Regions from separate parts of the Homo sapiens genome. Here region 2 is linked to region 1. Evidence: fine-mapped expression QTL. A gene starts in region 1. The other region holds a variant in brackets. All regions are shown on one strand. Distances are between the middles of the regions.

Region 1 (12,152 bases):
AAAAATCAACATACAAAAATCAGTTGTATTTATATATGCTAAAAGCAAACAATCTGAAAAAGAAATCAAGAAACCAATCCCATTTATAATAGCTACAAAGAGTATAAAATACCTAGGAATCAGTTTAACCAATGAAGTGAAAAATCTATGTAAGTAAACTATAAAACACTGATGAAAGAAATTTAAGATTTCATGGATTGGAATAATTAATATTATTAAAATGTCCATACTGCCCAAAGTGATCTACAAATTCAATACAACCCCTATCAAAATACCAATGACATTCTTCACAGAAATAAAAAAAAATCCTAAAATTTGTATGAAGCCATTCAAGATTCAAAATAGCCAGAGCAATCCTGGGCGAAAAGAACAAAGCTGGAGACATCATACTACTTGATTTCAAAATATATTACAAAGCTATAGTAACCAAAACAGAAGGGTACTGGCATAACAAAAGACACATAGACCAATGGCACAGAATACAGAACCCAGAAATAAATCCACATGTTTAGAGCCAACTCATTTTCAACAGAAGTACCAAGGACATACAATGGGGAGAAGAGAGTCTCTTCAATAAAATGTGCTGGGAAAAATGGATAACCATATGCAGAAGGATGAAGCTAACCTCTATATCTTACCATATAGAAACATCAACTCAAGATGAATTAAAGGCTTAAATCTAAGACCTGAAACTATGAAACTACTAGAAGAAAACGTTTCAGGACATTGATTTGGGCAAAGATTTTTTGGTAAGACCACAAAAGTACAGGGAACCAAAGAAAAAATAGGCAAACAGAATTACATCGAGCTAACAAGCTTCTGCATAGCAAAGGAAATACTCAACAAACGGAAGAGACAACCCATAGAATGAGAGAAAATATTTGCAAACTACTTGTCTGACCGAGATTAATAACCAGAATATATCAGGAACTCAAACAATTGAATAGCAAAAAACCCCAAATAATCCAATTTTAAAATAAGCAAAAGATCTGAATAGACATTTCTCAAAAGAAGACATACAAATAGCTAACAGGTATACGAAAAAATGTTCAACATCCAAAATAATCAGGAAAGTACAAATCAAAATCACAATGAGGTATCTCACTTCAGTTTTTTTTTTAATCAAAAAGACAGGGAATAACATATGCTGGTAAGGATGTGGAGAAAGGGGAATACTTGTGCACTGTTGGTGGAAATGTAAATTAGCACAGCCTCTATGGGAACTATATGGAAGTTTCTCAAAACTAGACCTACCATATGATCCAGAAATTCCACTACTGGGTATATATCCAAAAGAAAGGAAATTAGTATATCAAAGAGATATTTGTATTCTCATGTTTACTGAAGCACTATTCACAATAGACAAAACATGGAATCAACCCAAGTGTCCATCAATGAGATGAATGGATTAAAAAATGTGGCATATATACACAATGGAATATTATTCAGCCATAAAAAAAATGAAATCCTATCATTTGCAGCAACATGGATGGAACTGGAGGTCACTATGCTAAGTGAAATAAGCCAAGCACAGAAAAACAAATATCACATGTTCTCATTTATATGTGGGAGCTAAAAAAAAACTGGATCTTATGAAGATAAAAAGTAGGTTGGTGGTTACCAGAGGTAAGGGGATGGTGGGAGGGGTTGAAGAGAGATTGCCTTTTTTTCCCTGTTTTAGTTTGGAATGCTAGAGTGGATTAGTCACTTTAGACCATCATGAGACAGGTTAGCTTTACCCTACTGTTGATGTGTTGTTGCCATGGTAATCCTGCTCAGTATAAAAGGAACCACAGTTTCAGACATTTGTTGTATGTGCTTGGCTGAGGAGCCAATGGGGTGAAGTTTCCTAGGTGCAGCCCATGATACTATTTTTCCCTCCTAGGCCTCTGAGCCTGTGATGGGAGGGGCTGCTGAGAAGGTCTCCGACATGCCCTGGAGACATTTTCCCCATAGTTTTGTTGATTAACATTCAGCTCCTTGTGACTTATGCAAACTTCTGCAGCTGGGTTGAATTTCTCTCCAGAAAATGGGTTTTCCTTTTCTATTGCATCGTCAGGCTGCAAATTTTCCAAACTTTCATGCTCTGCTTCCTCTTAAATGCTTTGCTGCTTAGAAATTTCTTCCACCAGATACCCTAAATCATCTCTCAAGTTCAAAGTTCCACAGATCCCATAATTTATAAAGGAAAGAGGTTTAATTGACTCACAGTTCTGCATGGCTGGGGAGGCCTCAGGAAACTTACAATCATGGTGGAAGGGGAAGCAAACATGTCCTTCTTCACAAGGCAGCAGGAGAGAAGTGCTGAGTGAAGGGGAAAAGCCCCTTATAAAACCGTCAGATTTCATGAGAACTCACTCACTAGCATAAGAATAACCCCCATGATTCAGTTACCTCCCACTGGGTCCCTCCCACGATGTGTGGGGATTATGGGAACTACAATTCAAATGAGATTTGGGTGGCGAGACAGCCAAACCATATCGACCTATATTCAAATTCACCGGTTCTTTCCTCAGCTATGTCCAGTCTGCTGATAAGCCCATTGAAAGAATTCTTCATTTCTGATACGGTGTTTTTAATTTCTAGCCTTTCCATTTCACTTTTTAAGTAATTTTCCTCTTTCTGCTGAAATTCTCTATATATATTCATGCATATTGTTCACCTTTTCCACTAGCTTTATAAGCATATTAATTCTAGCCCAATATATGGGTCATTTCTGAATCTGGTTCTGTTTTACCTCTTGATTTTTTCTCCTCTCTGCTTTTTTGGGTGTCTTTTAATTTTTGATCAAATGATGGATATCACATGTAGGAGAATAGTAACAACTGAGGTAAATAATATTAATGTCCAGAAATAAACATGCCTCTTCTGTCCAGTCAATAATGTGGGTAGTTGAGTCAATCTAGTCAGGAGTTGTGCTGAATTTGGGTTTTGTTGTTGTTATCCTTGCCTTCACTCTGTACCACAGGCTTCATTCAGATTCCTCTAGCAGGGGGTTACTATTGCATTGTTTTAGTGTGGAACCTAGAGTGCTGGGGAGTTTTTCTCAGTGTCCCTCACTCAGCTTTTAGCAGTGTTTGCATGCCTGTGTTACAGAGAGGTCTCTCCCCACTCTTTTTCCTCCTCACTAGTTGACTGGTGTTGTCACTGGTGCTTGGCTTGTAGTGGGGAAAAGGGGTTTTTCACACTCCTGGTCCTGCCTTGGTTTTAGGCAGGCCCTGTGCACCTGAACCTTAGATGTGGGGCTTTCCCAGTATTCCTGACACTTTCCCATTGCAGCCAAATCCTTCCTTTATCTGTGGTGAGTCTTGAGTGAGAGAGGGTTTCCCAGCAGTAGCCAACTTCAATTTTCTATTGGTTCAGGACACAGAGCCCTAGTGTTTCCTGCTCCTGCTGCTCCCCAAAGGGCAGAAGGTTTGTGCTTCTATCTCTTCTCCAGAAGCAGGGGGTCTTTGCCAGGATCCTGTTGGTGGTAAAGCTTCCTGCCCTTCCCCCAGTGGATAAGGTTTTCATACAGAAGAAAAGTTTGGAGAGGTTAAGTGGAATTTCATGATTGTCCCCCAGTGACAGAACTATCACCTCCTAACATTCTTGTTATCTCCGGAAAAATATTTATTGCTTATAGAGAAAAATGTGGTGTTTCAATATAGCTTCTTTACAGATATTTACTAAGGATCTGTGATATAAATAGCACTTTAAATATTTAGTACATTGCTGCCTGCCCTTTTGTTTCTCCACCAGATATATCTGTAGAAAATACATTCATCATTCAACAACCCACCTGTTTATTTTAGCTACTTTCCATAGTGCCATCCAAAATTAAACCAAATCAAAATGAATGTGGTTAGGTACAAAAGCTGTCTTGCAAGAAGCAAGTGCACACCGCACCTGGGAATACAGGAAAGAATTGGATCAGGGCTCTGCTGTTTCTCTGAAGACAGGCTTCACTCAAGTAATGATGGTTTATTTTTAAAAACCATCCCTCTGAAGAGTCCCTTACAAGGAAATTTCTTAACTTTTTAAAAGCCATACATGGTGTACACATGGTGCCAAGTGCTTAAGGGCAGTTGGTTAAACCTTTCTTTGAGGGCAAGGAAAGCCTAGTCCATCCTACTCAGACTTTTAGGAAAAATGAGGCTTATCTATTTTTAACAGGATAATTTCTGTTACTTTGGGTTCTCTAAGATATCTCACCAAAAGACCAGAATTAGAGAAGACTGTCCTAGTTAAGTATGGAATATTGAGTCAAATTAATGGGTTCCAGGTCCTGTGGAGGGAATGTTCTTTAAAATATATGTATATCTCCTAATTATCAGTATTAAGATCATTCAGGTTATATGTTAATTTAAAAATATATCTATTACATTAAGAAACTTTTTTTTAACATAAGGTAATTTTAAGAGAACCTTGTCATGTTGGTGAAGGAACATTTTACGAGCCCCTCTGTACTCTGAAATGCCGTGTCCGAGATTAGACATACAAGTCAGTGTTACTTAAGCGGCCAAATTTCCAATTTGTTATTGCTTGTTACCAAATGAAAGTAAAAAGATAAACAGAAAGGTAAAATAAAGAAACTGGCTTTTATGTATTTTATTCACAAAAAGGGCGTTTGCCGAAGGACCTTCCCATTCACGGGCTGTCACTCACAGGTGCTCGGAGAATTCAGCCTCCAAATCCGCAGGTCACAGGTCAGCCAAGTTTTAAGAAACACTCCGGGTTAGCGACTCTTCCTCTCTGCAACTCCCACCCCTGCGCCGAGGGCAGCGGGACACGGCCGGGCGGTCCCCAGGGGAAGATGAGGCCCTGGACGCCCCGCGTGCGCTGGAGGCCCGGAGGCCAAGGCCGAGGCCGAGGCCGAGGCCGGGAGCATGCCAGCGGGGTCGCGCCACCGAAAGCTCCTCCGGCCTGGGCCCGCCGTGCCCCGAGGCCGCGGGCGGAGGCTGGAGCAACGAGCCCAACTCTCCCTCCGCCCCGGGGAGGCGGGGTCTCCGCCTTTCCCGCGTTCGGGCCTCACCGCCCCCTCCGCCTTCTCTGAGCCCCCGCGCCACTTCCGCTCCTCGCAGCGGAGCCGGTCCCCTAGGGCTCGGGTCGCACGGAGCTGACCCCTAACGAAATGGGGCCGCGCCAAGGGCGGTGGTGGCTGCTGCTCTGGCTGCCGCCCCTGGCCACACTGCCCGTGCGCGGGGAGGCGGCGGCGGCAGCGTTATCAGGTAACCCGGGACCGGCGGCGGCGGCGCGCGCGTGCGTGCTCGCTCCCCGGCTTCGCGGCTGCCCTGAGGGCGCGCTCTTTGGCCCGGGCGGCACCGCGAGGCCCACTGGGGCGGGCGCTCCCTTTTCTCGCTTTGGGGTCTCCCGGGCAGGCCCCGCCCGCCCTTCCTGTCTTACTGGGCTTCCGTAGTCTCTCGCCTGGCAGTTGGACATTTTGTAATTTTAGAATTAGAAGCAACCGCGCGATCCAGTCGCCCAATTCCCTCGTTTTACAGAAGCAACCGAAACTCAGAGAGGTTTTGATTTGCCCAGGGTCACACAGCTTGTCACTGGCACAGCTGACCCTAGTCTCCAGACTTTCAGCACACGGCCTTTTGTACAGTACATCAATGCGTGTTGAAATCCTTGTTATTTCACTATCTCGCATTCCTTTGGTCTCAAGACTAGAGAAGGTAACAGCTTCAGCTTCAGAATCGGAGCGAAAATTCTTCTGCCCCTGACTGTTGTGACCTTGAGCGAGTAAACATAACGGTCCCACGTGAGCGGCAGGTAATGAGGCCTCACAAGGTTCTTGTGGTGTTCGTGTGCACAATGCCTGGCACACAGGAAGCAAGAACTGGTAGCGGCTGCTAGCTGTAGGGGCTCGCCACGGAGTGGGCTTAAGATGCTGGCACACTGGGGAAGGATCTGGGAAGGACACCTGGGGAAGTCAGAAACCTAGAGTTCCAACTCCAGACCTGCCGCTAACTTACCATGAGCTTCACATTTCTGTTTCTTTTTTTTTTTCCCCTCATAAAATCTTTTAAAAGATTTCCTGGGTGCACTGTCTACCAACTTCCCTTCCTTGCTTTGGCTACCCTGGTTTCAAGGGAGGCTGCCAAGTGTATTCTTTTAGCTGGGCATGGCCCTCCCTCCGGTTATACCGCGGTTTTTTATCTAAGGATGAATGAGAGACTGGATGTTGATGAGGTCATTATCAGATTCTGCCACAGCTCCCAACTGAGGGAATCTTGCAGTGAGTTATATGTTGGGGAAGTGTTGGATTCCAGTTTTCATTGAAGAGAAATTTTTTGAGTGTTCAGTATGTGCTAGGCAGTGTTATAAGTGCTTTAACTGCAGTATCTATCATATTTAATACCCATAGAAGCCCTATGCGGGAAAGCACCATTTTATACCCATTTTACAGATGAGAAAACGAAGGTTTGGTAGTAAGAAATACAACAATTTTATGCTGGTGAAAAAATAAAACACAAATCTGTCTAAGCAGGAAGGTTTCTGGGCATGGCAACAGCGAGAAAATTAGAAGTAGCCTTAGACCAGCACCCAGCACCTTGGGTTCTAGACCACTCATTCCTTCAGCCACAACTTGTGGTATAACCTTGGTCCAGGCACAGAGTCTTTATGGACCGTAGTTTTCTCTTGAGTAAAATGAAGATGTTTTTACTGAAGAGTTTCCAGTATTTTCCTCACCTCAGTGAACCTGGTGTTTTTAAAGTTTTTATGTTACCGCATTTAGTATAATAGTAACAGCCTGCTTCTCTGCTTTGTTAATCAAAGACACACATAAATACTTATTGGAGCTTCTGTTCTGCCTGAGACATGCAGGATGCCCACTGACTTGATAAAACTAGTCCACAGCTAAGAAGAATGGCAACTTTTGTAGCCTTAGAGGGATGCCTGCCATTCCGGTAGGCTTTCCAATACGGACTGTGAAGCGCCCAGCATCTGGTAGTGTGCCAGTGACACTGTTGGCAGCCCTGGATTAGACTAGGCTTAAGAACCATAGCTGCTCTTTAAAAGTCTATGGTTTCTTGAGGACCCTGAGAGGAAACAGCTGGTACTTCCTTTAAGCGAGGGGCTTGGATTAGTGATACCTAAGGTGCCTTCCTGTTCTAAAATTTTGTCTTGAATAACACACACTTCAATGGAATGGAGAACATTCAGACCAACCCCAGCTTTCTGTCACTCTATTTGGAGGAAAGTCAGAGACAGTTGACACAGGAGGAGCAGGTAGTTGTCTGACTGAGAGGAGAAACTTCAAGAGTTTCCCATAATTTTCACCCAGTTAGTGAGGTCCCTAGAAACCATGTGTTGTCCTGAGATGAAGTTCAGGCCCTGTCAGTGGCTTTCCAGGCTTAAACTATAACAGTCCATTTGACACCACAGCTTTAAGATTCATCTGTGAAGATTTGAACTTGAAGTTAAAGACCTGAGTGTGCATGAGTATATACTAATTCCAGTTTCATTCTCATATTCTTGGAGAAAGAAAAAGATGAATATTCAGGTTAAAAAAAACTGAGGTTAAGAGAATAGTTACCTTTATCACTTTGGTGCCTCACGTTAACACCTTTGAAAATGTGTATTTACAAAAAACAAATAGTAAGAAAAATCCTGAGTCCATTTGACTTCTCACAAGTTAAGACTTGTTGGTTTTTTGCTTTTTGTGTTTCCTACTCTTCTCCCTCCCCTTCCTTGTCCCCAAAGAAAAACAGTTATAGGGAAAATGGGGAAATTTGTCATATAAGTTAATAAGTGTTTATATTATGATTCCATTCTAGTTTCATCTGAAGATATTTTTTTTCCCCATATGAGGGCCATGTCAGTTTTCAGGAGGAACATTGGTGAGATATTTTTGTGTTGGGAGTTAGGTTCTGCTAAGATTTGAGGTGTTTGTGCTTTTTATTTTTAGCATATTCTGTAAGTAGGTTTAAGTACTGCCTGCTCTTTTCTGATGTTTTGACTGAGGTTTTTTTTTCCGTATATATGACTCAACTCTTTAACTTAAACATATACTTACATTTAGGAAAACTAATAAATGACAAAAGTACTACAAAGGAGATAATTGAGCTTATAATTAGGTGATATGTAGCTGTCCCTTTTTTATACTAGATATGTAATTCTAAAATTAGATTAATTGAATATTCATAAATTGAGTGGTATTTAAAATGAACTAAGGAATCTATCTCATTGGTTAAGGGAACCCTGACTTTCTGAATCCTTTGGTAATGTAAATAATTAATGCCTCCTGTAACATCTTAGAAATTTGGGCACAACTATCCAGAAATATACTGTTCTCTAGAAGTCAGGTTAATTGAAAGCATCAAAGAGCCTGCTGAGGATTGCAAGAAGTTAAGGAAAATGATGCCCTTCCAGGCTTAGAAACCTGTCTTTCCATAGTAAGGATGGCATTCAGGGTTGATCCCACAGATACTCCTCAGTCCTTGAGGGTTGAGGCAAACCTGGGATAGCCTACACTTCCAGATCTTTCTCCCGATCTGATTCAGGCTTGAGGAAGTGATTACCTAGGTTATGGAGCACCTTCCAGGGTACGGACATATTAAATACCTCAGCCTCAAGTAGAAGCAGTAGCTTTCCCTAGGCAGGTATTGTTCCCTTTTGACCAAATGAATGATTATTGTTAGATTTTTAAAAATTCCTAGAAATTCTGTTTCATTTCCTGGATTGCATTGTAAGGGGATTGTTGTTGTTTTTGTTCTAATTTTTAAATGTTTATTTATTTTTGAGACTGAATTATGATCCTGGCCAATTTTTTATTTTTGGTAAAGACAGGGTTTCACCATATTGCCCAGGCTGGTCTCAAATTCCTGGCCTTAAGGGATCCACCTGCCTTGGCCTCCCAAAGTGCTGGGATTACAGGCATGAGCCTCAGCACCTGGCCCGTTGTTGTTTTGATACATTTGAGTTTGCCTACATCTGCTACCGGAGGTTCTATCCTAGTAGAATTAACCAGCAATAACTGGGGCCTCATGAATAAATGAAACCCGCAGACATGCAGGCAGCTTCATAGCCTTCAGTGTCAGGGCATAATCAGCCATAGAGTTCAAATAAGCAGTCAAACTGGCTCTGTTTCCTGTTTCCATTGGACATGATTGAAACCGAGCAGTGAAATGGCTCTAGAAGAAGATTGCTAAAGGGAGGAGAGACCTAAGAAAGATACAGCCTTTATAATCAATCTAAGATTGGAAGATCTGTTCTCTCTAGAGAGAACAGTGGGCCAGCTGTGATAACAGTCTTGTGACAATCACTGTCTTTTGCCTAGTCCAAATAGCCCGTGGCTTAATGAACTGACTTGAAGCTAGGCTTGTGGCTTCTTATGGCTGAATTTATGGTCCCTTAGATATTTAGGAATTCCTGTGTGGGTTGTTTGAGACTCATTCACCTCGGGAGAGAGGTGATAAGAAAAAAGGGCAGCCAGAGGACACCATGAAGCACTGACACTTTGTGGAATCTCATGGATTGTGTAAATTCCACATCAGCTTCACCTCAAAAGCCAGAGGCCACTCTGGAGAATTCGAGGGAAAACACTGCAACATGCTTTTACTAGCGTGTCTATAGGCATGAACAGTCAGGACAACCTCCTTCCTTCTATGCTGTCCTTAATCTGGTTGAAGACTGAGGGGAAATGCAGAACAAGTTCTTTTCCTCTAACTGGCAGATCCCTTACCCAGAATACACTGATGTATCATATATGAGTCAAACAAAAGAAGCTTAATGCCACCTATTCTTTCTGACCTCCTCTATCCAGTGAGGGGCAAGAAGATGATCCCCAGTCCAGAGGATGTTAAGGGTTACAGTACTCAACCCTCTAGCTATGGATGTATTGGCCATGGGGTAGGGCAAGGGGGAAGTGCAGCCTGTGGCTTCCAGACTGGCCCTCATGCTTTGTCAGTTCTGTAAATGGGATGGCAGTGGCACAGGCTGGCAAGGGCATCCTACTACATCAGGTGGTTTCAAGGGAGGGCCAGAGTGCACCTTCTTTTACGGTGCTGACTATTCCTGGCCAGGCTCTTACAAAGATTGGCTGGACTTCCATTGGTAGGCCACACATGCCTAAATAACCCACTAGTCCTCTTGAACCACAAGCTACACACAAAAGATAAATATTTAAGTTCTGGGGGTTACAGTGATAAACATGCAATGTCCCTGACTTCATGGAGAGACAGAGTATAAGCTAATAAATATATATGTAATATGAAGAAAGAATAAAGCAGGTGGAAGTGGTTGGGGTGTGTTTGTTTAGACAGTGGGGTCAAAGAAGGCCTTTCTGAGAAGGGAGTGTTTGATAGAGTATATCAGTGATTGGAAGGGATGAGCTCTGCCAAGATCTGGGAGAAGAAGGTTGCAGCAGACTGAGGAAACTTTATGTGGGGGCTCGCTGGCATCTTGAGGACAGGAAGGCCAGCTGTGGCTGGAGCAGTGGGCTGGGAGGGAAGGTGGAGGAGGGAAGGTCATAGAGGCACTCAGGTCCCTGGAAGGGAGGGGGATTTTATTAATGGTGTAAAAGGAAACCATTGGAGGGTTTTAAGCAGGTAAATGATGGGTTCCCATTCATGTTTTTGTTTGTTTGTGTTTGTTTTTGTTTTGAGACAGAGTCTCACTCTGTCGCCCAGGCTGGAGTGCAGTGGTGTGATCTCAGCTCACTGCAACCTCGCCTCCCAGGTTCAAGCGAAATTACAGGCATGAGCCATTGTACCCGGGCCCAATTCATGTTTTTAAAAAGATCTATTTGCTAATTGAAAAGTGTGTTGTAGGGGAAAACATGGTAGTTGGGGGGCAGCAATTCTGGAAGCAGGGAGACCAGCCAGATAGAAGGCTATTACATCATCCTAGTGCAAGAGGAATGTGGCTTGGGTAAGAGAGAAGCATTTATTCCTATGTTGAAACTGCAGTATACACTATACTTAAATTGCATCATCTTGCTCTTAAGAGCTCCAGGTTTGGAATGATTTAGGAGACAGTCTTAGGATCAAGTGGAAAGAACCTTATTTGAAGAGAGCATTTGATTGCAAAACTCAGGCCCCACCAAAAGGTTATTTCCTCAGACCATTAACAAAAGGGAACTGTTCTATGAGAGTTGATTTAGCCCTTGAAGTAGCAGCACTCACTAGAAGAATTGCAGTGAGGGACCTTTGGAGGCACCCACAAGAAAAGCCCATCTAGCATTGAGCACATGGGTGGTGAAGAAAGACCTGTCTGGAAGTAAACATTATTATCATAGTTTGGGCTGCTGGGTCCGTGTACCTGAGACTTCATGCTCTTCACCTGCCCTGCTGGAATGCACTCCCTTTCCAACGATAGGTAGGAATCACTTTTGTTTGAGGACTCCCAGTATAAAGTTATTAACTCTAGCCATGCTTAGAGACCCCCCCGAGGAGGCTGTGCAAAGGCAGAACATGACAAGGTGAATCCAGAGATCTGATCCCCACACCTCTGCTGCTTACTAACTGGGAGCATTTAATGTGTTCTCATGTCTTCTCATTGCAGTTGCTCAGGATCTTCCAGGTTATATACTACATTCCTTGACATTCTTCTTTTCTATAGGTAGCTGCCAGCCCTTTGATATCCCTGGGACTGCACTTCCCCCTATGCTGCCCTTGGCCAGAAGTCATTTGCATCTCAGATATATTCAAAAATGTGCCTCAGCATTGGTTGCTTTGTGTATTCATAGCCCTGGTTGTGAATTCTTCTTTTGGCTCTTGTGCATGGACACACCATGCAGGAGCATGTTTTTCATTTTTAGTATCCTGTATTTAACAGAGAGCCTGTAGAACAGCAGTCTTCAACCTTTTAGCAACAGGGACCAGTTTCATGGAAGACAGTTTTTCCACAGGATAGGAGTGGGGTTGGGGTGGTTTTGGGATGAAACTGTTCCACCTCAGATCATCAGGCATTAGTTAGATTATCATAACAAGCATGCAACCTAGATCCCTAGGTTGCTCAGTTCACAGTAAGGTTCACGCTCCTATGATAATCTAATGCCACTGCTGATCTGACAGGAGGTGGAGCTCAGGTGGTAATGATCACTCGCCTCGCGCACCGCTCACCTCCTGCAGCCCTGTTCCTAACAGACCATGGACTGGTATTGGTCCTTGGCCCCAGGGTTGGGGACCTTTGCTCTAGAGGTTCCTTCTTGTGGTTTTTAC
Region 2 (12,152 bases), 110 kb after region 1:
TCACACCTGTAATCCCAGCACTTTGAGAGGCCGAGGGAGGTGGATCACTTGAAGCCAGGAGTTTAAGACCAGCCTGGCCAATGTGGCAAAACCCCATCTCTATTAAAACTAAAAAAATTAGCCAGGCATGGTGGCAGATGCCTGTAATCCCAGCTACTCGGGGGGCTGAGGCAGGAGAATCACTTGAACCCAGGAAGCAGGGTTGCAGTGAGCTGAGATAGCACCACTGCCCTCCAGCATGGGTGAAAGAGTGCAACTCTGTCTCAATAAATAAATAAATAAATAAATAAATAAATAAATAAGCAAGCATCTCTAAATGTTTGAGTGCCAACATGATACTCAAAGGAGATGCACATTGTAGCATTTTTGATTTTTGGATTTAGAAGGCTGAACAGGTAAGTATAAAACAAATATTCTAAAATTTGAAAAAATTCTAAATCCAAAATACTCCTGGTCCCAAGCATTTTAAATAAGGGATGCTCAACCTGTAATATCAAATGTTGATGAGGATGTGGAGCAACTAGAACTCTCATAGATTGCTGGTGGGACTGTAAATTGATACACTACTTTAAAAACTGGGAATAGCTACTAATCCTGAGTGTAAGACCCTATGACAACCAAAAGATATGTATATTCACCGAAAGACATCTATAAACATGTTCACTGCAGAATAATTTTAATGGCTCAAAACTGGGAGCAACCTGTCTACAGCAGATACATAAATTGTAGTATTTCCATCCAAAGAAATACTGTGCAACAGTAAAAATGAACAAACTACAACTACATGCAGTGACAAGGATGAATCTCACAAACATAATATGGACTAAGAGAAGCAGGAAACAAAAGATCACTGAACACATGATTCCACTTATGGAAAAATAATAAACAGGCAAAACTAAGTTATGGTATTAAAAGTGGTAGACATGGCAGGGCACAGTGGCTCACGCCTGTAATCCCAGCACTTTGGGAGGCTGAGGCAAGTGGATCACCTGAGGTCAGGAGTTCGAGACCAGTCTGATCAACGTGGTGAAACCCCATCTCTACTAAAAATACAAAAATTAGCTGGGCATGGTGGCAGGCACCTGTAAGCCCAGCTACTCAGGAGGCTGAGACAGGAGAATCGCTTGAACCCAGGAGGTGGGGATTGCAGTGAGCCAAGATTGTGCCATTGCACTCTAGCCTGGGTGACAAGAGTGAAACTCTGTCTCAAAAAAAAAGAAAAAAAAAAAGTGGTAGACTTCTTTTCCAAGAAGATGGAGTAGACACAATTTTCTCTATCACTTCTGCTAAGTACAACTAAAAACCCTAGACAATAATATATAAAGTAAACATAGAAGACTCTGAAAGATAGACAAAAAAAGGCAGACCAGCTATGGACCTTGGTACCCAAGGAACAACACAAGTATGAGTGGAGCTGAAGAACCAAGAAATACTGATGGGTGAAGATAGGTGCAAACAAAAAGCCCTAACAAGTGCCTGCTTGCTATCTAATGAACCAGGAAAGGGGCAGTCTAGAAAGACACAGAACTTTAGATAATAACTTCGACTGCAGCCAAATACCACAGAAAAAATGATCATAACCCTATTCCCACTCCTGCCCACACCATCAAAGGCTGAGCAGGGAGCCTACAATTCTGCCCTCACCAAGCTATAATGGGGAACCCCCAACCCCTCAACTAAGGTGGGATCAGAGAAGATAAAGGAGCAAGGACTTTCATCCCTGCTAGGCAGTAATGAGGCCACAGTATCAGTGGAGATTACATGGGAAGCCTGGACTGCCAACCCACCTGTTGGTAACAAGGCACCCTTACCTTTCCCCACTGGGGTGATGTCAGGAGTTACAGTAGAGAATCAGGACTTTCACCACTGGCCAGCAGTAAGGAGGTCCACCCCTCACTCTCAATGGGTGTCACTGAAGGCCATGTGAGGAGGCCTACTGGGGAGCTGAAATGCCCATCTCCACTTCACAGTAATGAAAAGTCTTTCACCTTCAGGTATCCAAAGAGGCTGAGTGAGGAACTTGGACTTCTACCTCCAGCTGGCAGTAATAAAGCAGCATCCTCCCTTCTCTTGCCAGAGCAGTTTCAGAAAAAGTCAGCTAAAGCAGAAGGTCTAAATAAGATCCACAGTCTCATAAAATAATACCCAAAACATCTTGCTTTCAATAAAAAATCATTCGTCACACCAAGAACCAGGAAGATCTCAAACTGAATGGAGAAAGGCAATCAATGGATGCCAACATTGAGATGACAGGAATGACAACCATTTTGAAAACAACCATCATTTGGAAATAATAGACACTGGGGACTCCAAAAGTGGGGAGAATGGGAGGGGGATGAGGGCTGAAAAGTTACCTGTTGTGTACAATGTTCAATATTTGGGTGATGGGTACAGCAGAAGCCCAATCCCCACAACTACACAATATACCCATGTAACAAACATGCATTGTACCCCCTGAATTTAAAATATTTTTAAAAAGCCATCCTAAAAATGCTTAGATAGGCAATTATAAACATGCTTGAAACAAAACAAAAAAAACAGAAAGTCTCAGCAAAGAAATGGAAGAAAAAATGGAAAACTTATAACTGGAAAATACAACCACAAAAATAAATCTTAATGGATACACTTAATAAAGCAGAATAAAGGGGACAGAGGGATTAATGAGTGAATTGGGATACAGAACAATAGGAATTACACAATCTGAACAGAGAGAAAATAAAGTGAAAGAGCCTTAAGGACCTATGGGACTGTAACTAAAGATCTAATGTTCATGTCATCATAGTCCTGGAAGGTGAGGAGAAAAAAAGGGAGTGAAAAAGTTGTCAAAGAAGTAAAGGCTAAAAACTTCTCAAATTGGCAAAAGACATAAACCTACAGATTCCAGAAGCTGAGCAATCCCAACAGGATAAAACTAAAACAAAATGCCCACACCAAAACTCATCAGTCAAACTTCTAAAAACTAAAGGCAAGGAAAAAAATTTTGAAAGCAGAGAGAAACAACTTACCAATGGGAGAAAAACAATTGAAATGATAGCAGATTTCTGAGAAACCATGGACACTGGAAGTGGCACAATTTTTTTTAAGTGCTAAAAGAAAAGAATTGTCAATGCAGAATGCTATATCCAGAAAAAAAGACTGTCCAAAAAAACAGAAAACTACTAATATCCCTGGTAAATCTAGATACAAGAACCCTTAAGAAAATATTAGAAAAGAGAATTTAGCAACATATAAAAAGAATTATACAACATGACAAAGTGTGGTTGATTCCAAAAATACAAGGCTGATGCAATATTTCAAAGTCAGTCAATTCAATCTACCATGTTAATAAGCTAAAAAAGAAAAATTACTTCAGCTTACCAATCAATGCAGAAAAACACTTGATAAAATAAACATTTGAAAAAGTCTCAGAAAATAGGTTCTGAGGTAAAAGTCTCAGAAAACTAAGAACAGAGGGGAATGTTCTCAATTTGATAAAGATCACCTACGGAAACCCATGGGTAACACTGCACTTAATGGTGAAAGACTGAATGCTTTTTCTCTAAGATAGGGAACAAGGCAAGACTGTCTGTTCTCATCATTCTTATGCAACACAATGCTGGAAGTTCTCACCAGTGCAATAGGAAATAAAAGAAAACAAAAGACATACAGATCAAAAACAAAGAAACTGTCCCTATTTGCAGTTAACATGACTAGGTAGAAAATCCCAAGAAACCTATAAATAAACTTCTAGAACTAATAAGTGAGTTCAGCAAGTTCACAGGATACAAGATAAGCATACAATAATTAATTGTATTTCTGTATACTAGCAATGAACACATGGACACCAAAATTATAATACCATTTACAGCTGCTTAAAAAAGAAACACTTGGGTATAAATTTAAAAAATGTGTACAAGGCCTTATGCTGAAAACCATAAAATGCTGATGAAAGAAATCAAAGAGCTAAATAAATGGATCCATGTTTATGAATTTCAATTCTCCTCAAATTGATATACAGGTTTAACACAACTCCTATCAAAATCTCAGCAACATATTTTTGTAGATATAGACAAGATTTTAAAATTTATACAGAAAAGGAAAGAAACGAATAGCTAAAGCAGTTTTGAAAAAGATCATATAGCTGTGCATTAAGACCGTGTGGTATTAGCAGAAGGACAGACACATAGATCAATGTAACAGAATACAGAACCCAGAACAAATCCACCCAAATATGCCCAACTGTTTTTTAACAAAGATGCAAAAAAAATTCAATGGTGGAAAGGTAACCTTTCAACAAATGGTGCTGAGGTAATTAGACATCCATGGGCAAAAATAATGAAACTCGGCCAGGCGCAGTGGCTCACGCCTGTAATCCCAGCACTTTGGTGGCCGAGGTGGACGGATCACCTGAGGTCAGGAGTTCGAGACCATCCTGACCAACATGGAGAAACCCCATCTCTACTAAAAATACAAAATTAGCTGGGCATGGTGTCATGTGCCTGTAATCCCAGCTACTCGGGAGGCTGAGGCAGGAGAATCACTTGAACCTGGGAGGCGGAGGTTGCAGTGAGCCGAGACAGAGCCATTGCACTCCAGCCTGGGCAATAAGAGTGAAACTCTGTCTGAAAAAAAAATAAATAAATAACCTCAAACTAAGTCTTATACCTTATACAAATATTAACTCAAAATGGATCATTAACTATACAATTTGAAACTATAAAACATTTAGAAAAAAAAAAAAAGAAGAAGAAAATCTTTAGCCTCTAGTGCTAGGCAGAGTTTTTAGACTTGACACCGATACCATGATCCATAAAAGGAAAAACTAATGTTAGACTTCATTAAAATTTAAAACTTTTGCTCTTTAAAAGAC[T/C]CTGCAAAGAGGATGAAAACACAAGCTACAGACTGTGAGAAAATACTTGGAAACCACAAATCCAGCGAAGGATTAGTTTCTAGAATATGTAAAGAATTCTCCAAACTCAACAAACAATCCAATTAGAAAATGGACAAAAAACGTGAAGGGACATTTCACTGAAGAGGATAGACAGGATATATAAATGCATAGATACAAATGAAAAGATGTTCAACATCATTAATGATTAGGGAAATGTAAATTAAAACCATGATGCTATATCACTACACGTCTATAAGAATGGTTAAAATAAAAATAGGGATAACACTGAATTCTGATAAGGAGGCACAACTACCAAATTACTCATATACTGTGGGTGGGGATTTAAAATGGTACACCACTCTAGAAAGCAGTTTAGCAGTTTCTAATAAAACTAAATACATGATTACCATAAAACCCAGTAATTACACTTCTGGGAATTTATTCCAGATAAATGAAAACTTATTTTCACACAGAAACCCATGCATAAATGTTTATAGCAGCTTTCTTCATAATAGCCAAAAAGTGGAGACAACCCAAAAGCCCTTCAAAGGATGGAAGGACTAATTAAACAAATTGTACTACAGCTTTACTATGGGATATTATGCAGCAATAAAAAGGAGCAAACGATTGATACATGCAATAAACTGGATAAATTTCCAGATAATTATAGAATGAAAAAATCCTATCTCAAAACATTACATACTGTATGATTCTATTCATATAACATTCTTGAAATGACAACATCATTGAAATAGAGATAGACAGGTGATTGCCAGGAATTCACTAGAGAGTGGGGACAGGAGGGAAGTAGAGGTGGCTATACAAGGGCAACATGAGGGACCTTGGTGGCGACAGAGAGAAATGTTCTGTATCTTGACTGCCTCAATGTCAATGGTGCTATTATGCTATAGTTTTGCAAGATGTTATCACTGGGGAAAAGTCAGGGGGTACAGGATACATGGGACATTGCTCTATTATTTCTAACAACTACATGTGAATCCACAATGATCTCAAAATAAAGTTTAAAAGAAGTTAGGATAGGGGTTACCCTTAAGGGAGATAGTGACTAGAAGGAATTTTGGGGTGCTGATAATGTATTTTCTTATCTAGGGCTTTATTTCATGAAGTGTTGACTTTGTAAAAACTCACTGAACTACAGTATTCTACAACAAAAGAACTTAATATGAAGAAAAAAAAAGATGAAAGTAGGAGAGAAAAAATGAGACAGATATAGCATCTCCCAGGAAGTCAAACATCTAGAAAATAATAACTCCAAGAAGGAAGAAAAGAAAAAAATTAAGGGAAGAAAACTTTAAAATTTCAAGAAAATGCCTCAAAACTGAAAGATAAGAGTTGTCTGAGTGAAATGACCCACCTAGTACCTAACACAATGAATAAAAATGGACACAAGCCAAAGCACATCATCGTTTCAGAACACTGGGACAAACGAATTACCTTACAAACTTTCAGAGTATAAAATATTTCACATAATAAGCATCAGGAATGAGAATGGCTTCAGATATCTCAACAACATCATCACAATCTATATGTAGCCAAATTATTACTTGAGTTTATGGGTGAAATAAAGACATTTTACACATGCAATTTCTCACAAAATTTATCTCTTATGTACCCTTTCTCAGGTTGTGTTCCACCAGAACAAAAGGATAAATCAAGCGAAAGACAGACAAGGGATACAGGAAATAAGAGATCTAACATGGGAGAGAAGCAACAGGAATACAGGGATGACAGAACTGGAGATCCCAGGAATGACAACTTTGAAGGGCAACCAGTCTAGTGGGAATAGGACTGAAGGTTTCAGGAGAGACCGTCAGAAAAATGACACTGGTAGAATACCAATACACCTGAATGTCCTAAGAGGAAATTTAGATGGCTGGTGAAACATTCAAGGATGAATAACTGATAAATACAGAGAAAGTTAAATAAACAGAACACTACAAGAAAACAAAGAGTTGCACAGAAAAAGAAAAAATGCAGTTTACTACATGTCTCTGTTATGATTACACAGTCATACAAATACAAACATGAATACTGAACTAACCAAAATTGCCTTATAGCTACATTGGGAAGTCAGAGAAATGAGAAAGTTAGGCTTTCTCATTAGACAGTCAGGAGCAGAAGAGAGAGTTAACTTGGTTTCTTCTATAGTGGGAAGACACTAGATATTATCTAGTGTCTTTAAATAAAATTAAAGTCAAGAAATACAGATACAAGAATTTTATTTAAAGACATACAGGTGATAATCCTACTATTTTGGGAGGCCAAGGCAAGAGGATCAATTAAAGTCAGGAGTTCTGGGCAACATAGTGAGATCCCATCTTTAAAAAAAATTTTTTTTTTAAGTTAGCCAGGTATGGTGGTACATGCTTACAGTCCCAGCTACTTGGGATGCTGAGGTGCCCAGGACAGTGAGCTATGATCATACCACTGCACTCAGCCTGGGTGACAGGGTGAGAACTGTCTCAAATAAATAAATAGGTGAATATCAAAATAATTGCAGAAAAAGTAGTTGCCTCTGGGAAGAGAAATAAAAAGAGCACAGAAGTCTGTTTTTTTGTTTTGGTTTGTAACCTTGTAAACATGTTCATTTTTTTAACTTCATACATCCATAACTCTCACTTTAAAAATAAAAACTGAGAAAGAAATATGGAGTCATGTGGATTTTGTCTTTACAAACGACATTAAAGCCAACTACTAACACCCTTCTATCACTGACTAAACATTTTTCAGAGTTGTACAGAATGTCCTTCCACATCAATTCTAATCAGGGGCCTTAGAGTGAACTTTAATTAATTATTCTACATAAATCATCTGCTGAATCTTCCCCAGGTAGATCAGAGAAGGACACAAAGTCCTCTTTAATGGGCATAATTTCCTGAATTGTCCAAGTGATTATGAAGAACTGATGCCCATATGCTAATTCAAAAATGGAAATATCTTACATTAAGATATTGATGTAAACCTTGATGAGTGACTTTCTCCCAAAATATTATTTCCTCTCCACCATATGCAAATGACTTTTGAGTATCATAAGGTTACACAAGGTTTCTCTGGTTACATAAGTCCAGATGTTAAGTAGTTCTCACAGTATCAACAAATACAAAGTCGTTATGGAAATGTTTCTGTAATATGACATTCAGTATCCCATATATAAATGTCATAGACAGTAACTTTTATATGAATTTCAAATCTTAAAAGACAAACAAAACTGTTAAACTCAGGTCATTATTTTTTTTTACTCAATATTTTCAGGTCATATTTAGATTTTGGTAAAAAGGAACCAAAACATGGAGAAATCACATTATAAACACAGTTATGAAATAAAGCATAATAAATAAAGTGTAATCACAGGATCAGGGACAAAAAGAAACCAAAAACAAGTATATCCCAATGTAGGGCATCTTTGGCTGAAGTGGATTATATTTAATTTGTCTTAAGGAATGACAAAACAAGTACAAAGAGTAGTAAAAATATTTATATGCTGGATGAGACAATCTGTTTATAAAGTGAAAGGAGATTTTGTTTATTGAGAGGTTGATATGGGCTAAATGTCTACAGCCCCTCCAAAATTAATAAGTTGAAGCCCTAAACCCCAATATGATGGTATTTGGAGGTAGCCCCGTTTGGAGGTAATTAGATTGAGAAGAGGTCATGAGATAGGACCTTTTTGATGGGATTAATGCCCTTATAAGAGGAGGCAACTCTCTCTCTATCCACATAGCAAGAAGGTGGCTATCTAGTAGCCAGGAAGAGGGCCCTCAACAGGAACAGAGTTTACTTGCACCTTGATGTTGGATTTCTCAGTCTCCAGAACTGTGAGAAATAAACTGTGGTTCAAGCAACCCTGTCTATATATGGTTGCTATATATATATGCTATATATGGTTGCTATATATTTTGTTATAGCAGCCTGAGCAAACTAAGACAGTGGGCAATGAACATGAATCAATTCAGTTAATATTTTGTTTTTAATGTCTGAGTCTTAATGCTTTTTTAAAAAAAGAAACTTGAAAATATAGAGTTAAGAAGACATTTCAAATTATATACAGAATTAACTTTATGATCTTTTCTGGGAAATATTCTCTAGTGCAGGTTTGCAGTTCATCCTAATCAGATAAGGAAGGCTTTGTTTACTTTTTAGGAAAGCAGAAGTCTTCTCACCTGGCACAGTCTAATGATAGTAATCAATACAACTATTGTGAAAATATAACACAGACTTCTAAAACCTGGAAAGCTATGCTACCAGTACCTACACTGAGTCATTCAAATAGCAGGTATTTCTGAATTATTGATGAGAGGCAATGAAATCATTCTTATTAAAACTGATAGCTTTCTTCATTATGTATTTGAATTAAAACTGTTCAAACATATATTGAGTTATCCGCAAATATATGAGAGTATGAAAATGGATTCAACTTTTGAAGAAAGAAACCCTGAGATCGAATACATTATTTGGAATAATTGCCAAAGGTTAGATTTACAAACATGATAAGAATGTGTGCTATAACATAGCAGTGACATAATTATCAGTGATGGAGAGGAAATAGTCCCTGGATACCACAGAAGGGACACTCTTCCTTGTGCCATGGCCATCATAACTCAGTGTTGCCTAGTGATGAGGGCTGAAGCTGCGAAGCAGGGAAATCAACTTTTCAAACCCTTGCAGCCAGCTCTGTCTTGTCAACTGTTATTGGCCAACATTCTCAATGGCTTTGGGAAATGTGAGTCCCAGAGCTGGACTCTAACATACTGCTGCAATTATGACCAGTATAGACACAGGGAAACTACTGTAAAAGAGCGTTAGAATCTAGGTATTCACACACCGCACTCAAACATTCAGTTCAACCCCCAGCTTCTTCCAGGATAGAGCTTTTTCCAGAGACACAGTGTGCGAGGTCAATTCCCATAGATTTTTTTTTTCCATCAGGATTGCTTTAGCATCTGCTAGACATTTAGCCAATGTCATGAAAAAAATATATAAGGTTAGTTTTATAACAGTCACACAGGCTACAAGGGCACTGATCTGTGCAAAGATGAATGACTATTTTGGAATCTTCCTCTTCCTTTCAGGGTATTGTGACATGGTTCCTTTATGGCAAAGCCAAATGATGAAAGAAACAAAACTGGTCTCAGTCCTGTCAGCCCAGTTTCCAGCCTGAGCCCTCCAGGCACTCAGCACTGCCCACGGGCTCCCCAGAGCTGCTACTAGCTCCCCAGAGCTGCTACTAGCAGCATTCCACTGGGATTGAAACTCCTCCCAGAAACTAGAACCTGGCACCCTTGTCATTCTTTTGTTTTGTTTTGTTTTTTTAGATAGGGGCTCCTTCTGCCACCCAGGCTGGAGCGCAGTGGCACAATCACAGCTCACTGCAGCCTTGACCTCCTGGGCTCAAGTGATCCTCCCACCTCAACCTCCCAAGTAGCTGGGACTACAGGCACACACCACCACTTTCAGCTATTCTTTTCAGTTGTTTGCAGAGACAGGGTCTCACTATGTTGCCCAGGCTGGTCTTGAACTCCTGGGCTCAAGTGATCCATTTGCCTCAGCCTCCTAAAGTACTGGAATTACAGGTGTGGGCCACTGTGCCCAACCACCTTGTCATTCTTGGTGGGCCTTTCCAAGGCTCCTAGTAAAACCTGACTGCTAGATCATAAGCAAGCTGATTCACAACCTTGGTTGCCCCATCTTGACAACATATTTGCACTTCAACAGGGAATCAGTGGATTATACTATCATATTATTACCAACTACAATACAATAACACTTAAGTAACACTTGCTATGAACCTAGCATGTATTAACTCATTTAATACTCACAACAGTTCTCTGGGGTGGAAATGATTCCTTTCCCAGTTTTACCAATGAGGAAACTGTGGCACAGAGAAGGCAAATAACCAGCCCAAAGTCACATAGGGAATGAGTAGCAGTGCTGCTCTTAGCAGGTACTGACTCTCAATGCACTGTGCAGCTATGAGACAGGGATCCCAAAAGTTAGGTCTTAGGCCTCAAAGACTTGCTTTATCATTGACAAGCAATGATAAACCACATCTCTCTCTCTCTCACATACACACACACACACACACACACACACACACACACACCACTAAAGGGTTAAATGAAAAGTCAGAATAATAATGGAAGAAAAGCCACATAGCCCTATATAATTTATTAACTAAAAGATATTAGGGACAATAGGCATGCTTCTGGAGTTCCAAGTAGGGTGTCCATACTTCAGACAGGGGTTGTCAAGAAAACGAGGGGCTTAAATTGAACTCTGAAAGATGGGCAGGATTCACAGGCAAAGATGAGTGGGAAAACTATTCCAGGGTAGAGGAAAGAAAAGGCAGCAGAGGATCCGTAAAAGATTTATCCCAAGACTAAAGGGCACATGAGGCCACCCAGACAGCAACAGATGGCACAGGGCCTTGAATACCAGGCTGAGGGACGACAGAACACAAAATACAATGGAATTATACTGAAAAAAAGACATTCATTTGAACAACCAAAAAAACCCTACAGCTATAGATCGAGCACCCACTAGTAGGTAGGACACATGCTGGAGGCCACACAGTCCCTGTCATGACACCCAGAGGCGAGAAGAAGACGGGGGCACACACAATCACAACACCTTATGCTAAATGTTCAAACAGGAGCAAGCACAGGTGATGTACACAGAGGGTCTGTGGTGTGGGGCCTCGAGCCAATCTTAAAGGATGAATAGATTGGCAGGGTTTTGCTACTGTGACCTTGCTAAGGATTTCCCAACATTTGAACTTTTATTTTGGTGTGCTGATCTTACCGCTAATGATCCAGTACTGAAGTCCTGTGATGGTATCATTTCAGAACAAACAGTACTTTATGAATTCACTATATCTAATGGGACCTTTCATAACATCTGGAAATAGAATACACTTGAAACATTTTCCTCACTCCTTCCTCTACTTCTAGAGATTGTTCTCACATCTACTGTAGGATTTATAGGTAATTTTATTGCTATCTTTTTACAGATATCTCGTTTGCCCAACAAGACTGTATACCCCTCGAGGGAGGAATCTAGAACATAACATATTGCCCTTTACCCCTGTAAGCTCTCAATACTGTTTATTTTGACAAGCACCTGATGACAATAAACATATAAATTTTTATTAAAGTTTAATGTGATCAAAAATTCATTTTAGGAAGTAGAGTCAAAAGAAGTCCCAGTTGCATCCCCCTGGCTTTGATAAATCAGTGCCTCTTTAAGCCTCCTTTTCCATACAAAC

Alleles and levels. Alleles are on the strand shown, and positions count from the first base shown. SD is a standard deviation of normalised expression in the study named.
With allele T in place of C in region 2, the expression in subcutaneous fat of the gene that starts at base 4,931 in region 1 is higher (small effect, 0.29 SD a copy in GTEx).

The links.
Region 2: its variant is fine-mapped to the expression of NEMP2-DT in subcutaneous fat (GTEx, PIP 0.98).

Annotation. Positions count from the first base shown.
Region 1 is chr2:190,527,617-190,539,768 of GRCh38, reverse strand. It overlaps NEMP2-DT (NEMP2 divergent transcript), which reads right to left and starts at 4,931. Exons shown (of 5, transcript NR_183903.1): 1 at 4,648-4,931. It overlaps NEMP2 (nuclear envelope integral membrane protein 2), which reads left to right and starts at 5,047. Exons shown (of 9, transcript NM_001142645.2): 1 at 5,047-5,210. The coding sequence starts at 5,114. RefSeq lists a silencer at 4,734-5,383.
Region 2 is chr2:190,416,805-190,428,956 of GRCh38, reverse strand. All of the region lies in intron 2 of MFSD6 (major facilitator superfamily domain containing 6), which reads right to left. It also overlaps a transcript of NEMP2 not described here. Among named protein-coding and RNA genes, the nearest start is that of MFSD6, 15 kb to the right of the region's middle. RefSeq lists a silencer at 1-134. The variant T/C (reference allele first, on the strand shown) is at 4,850.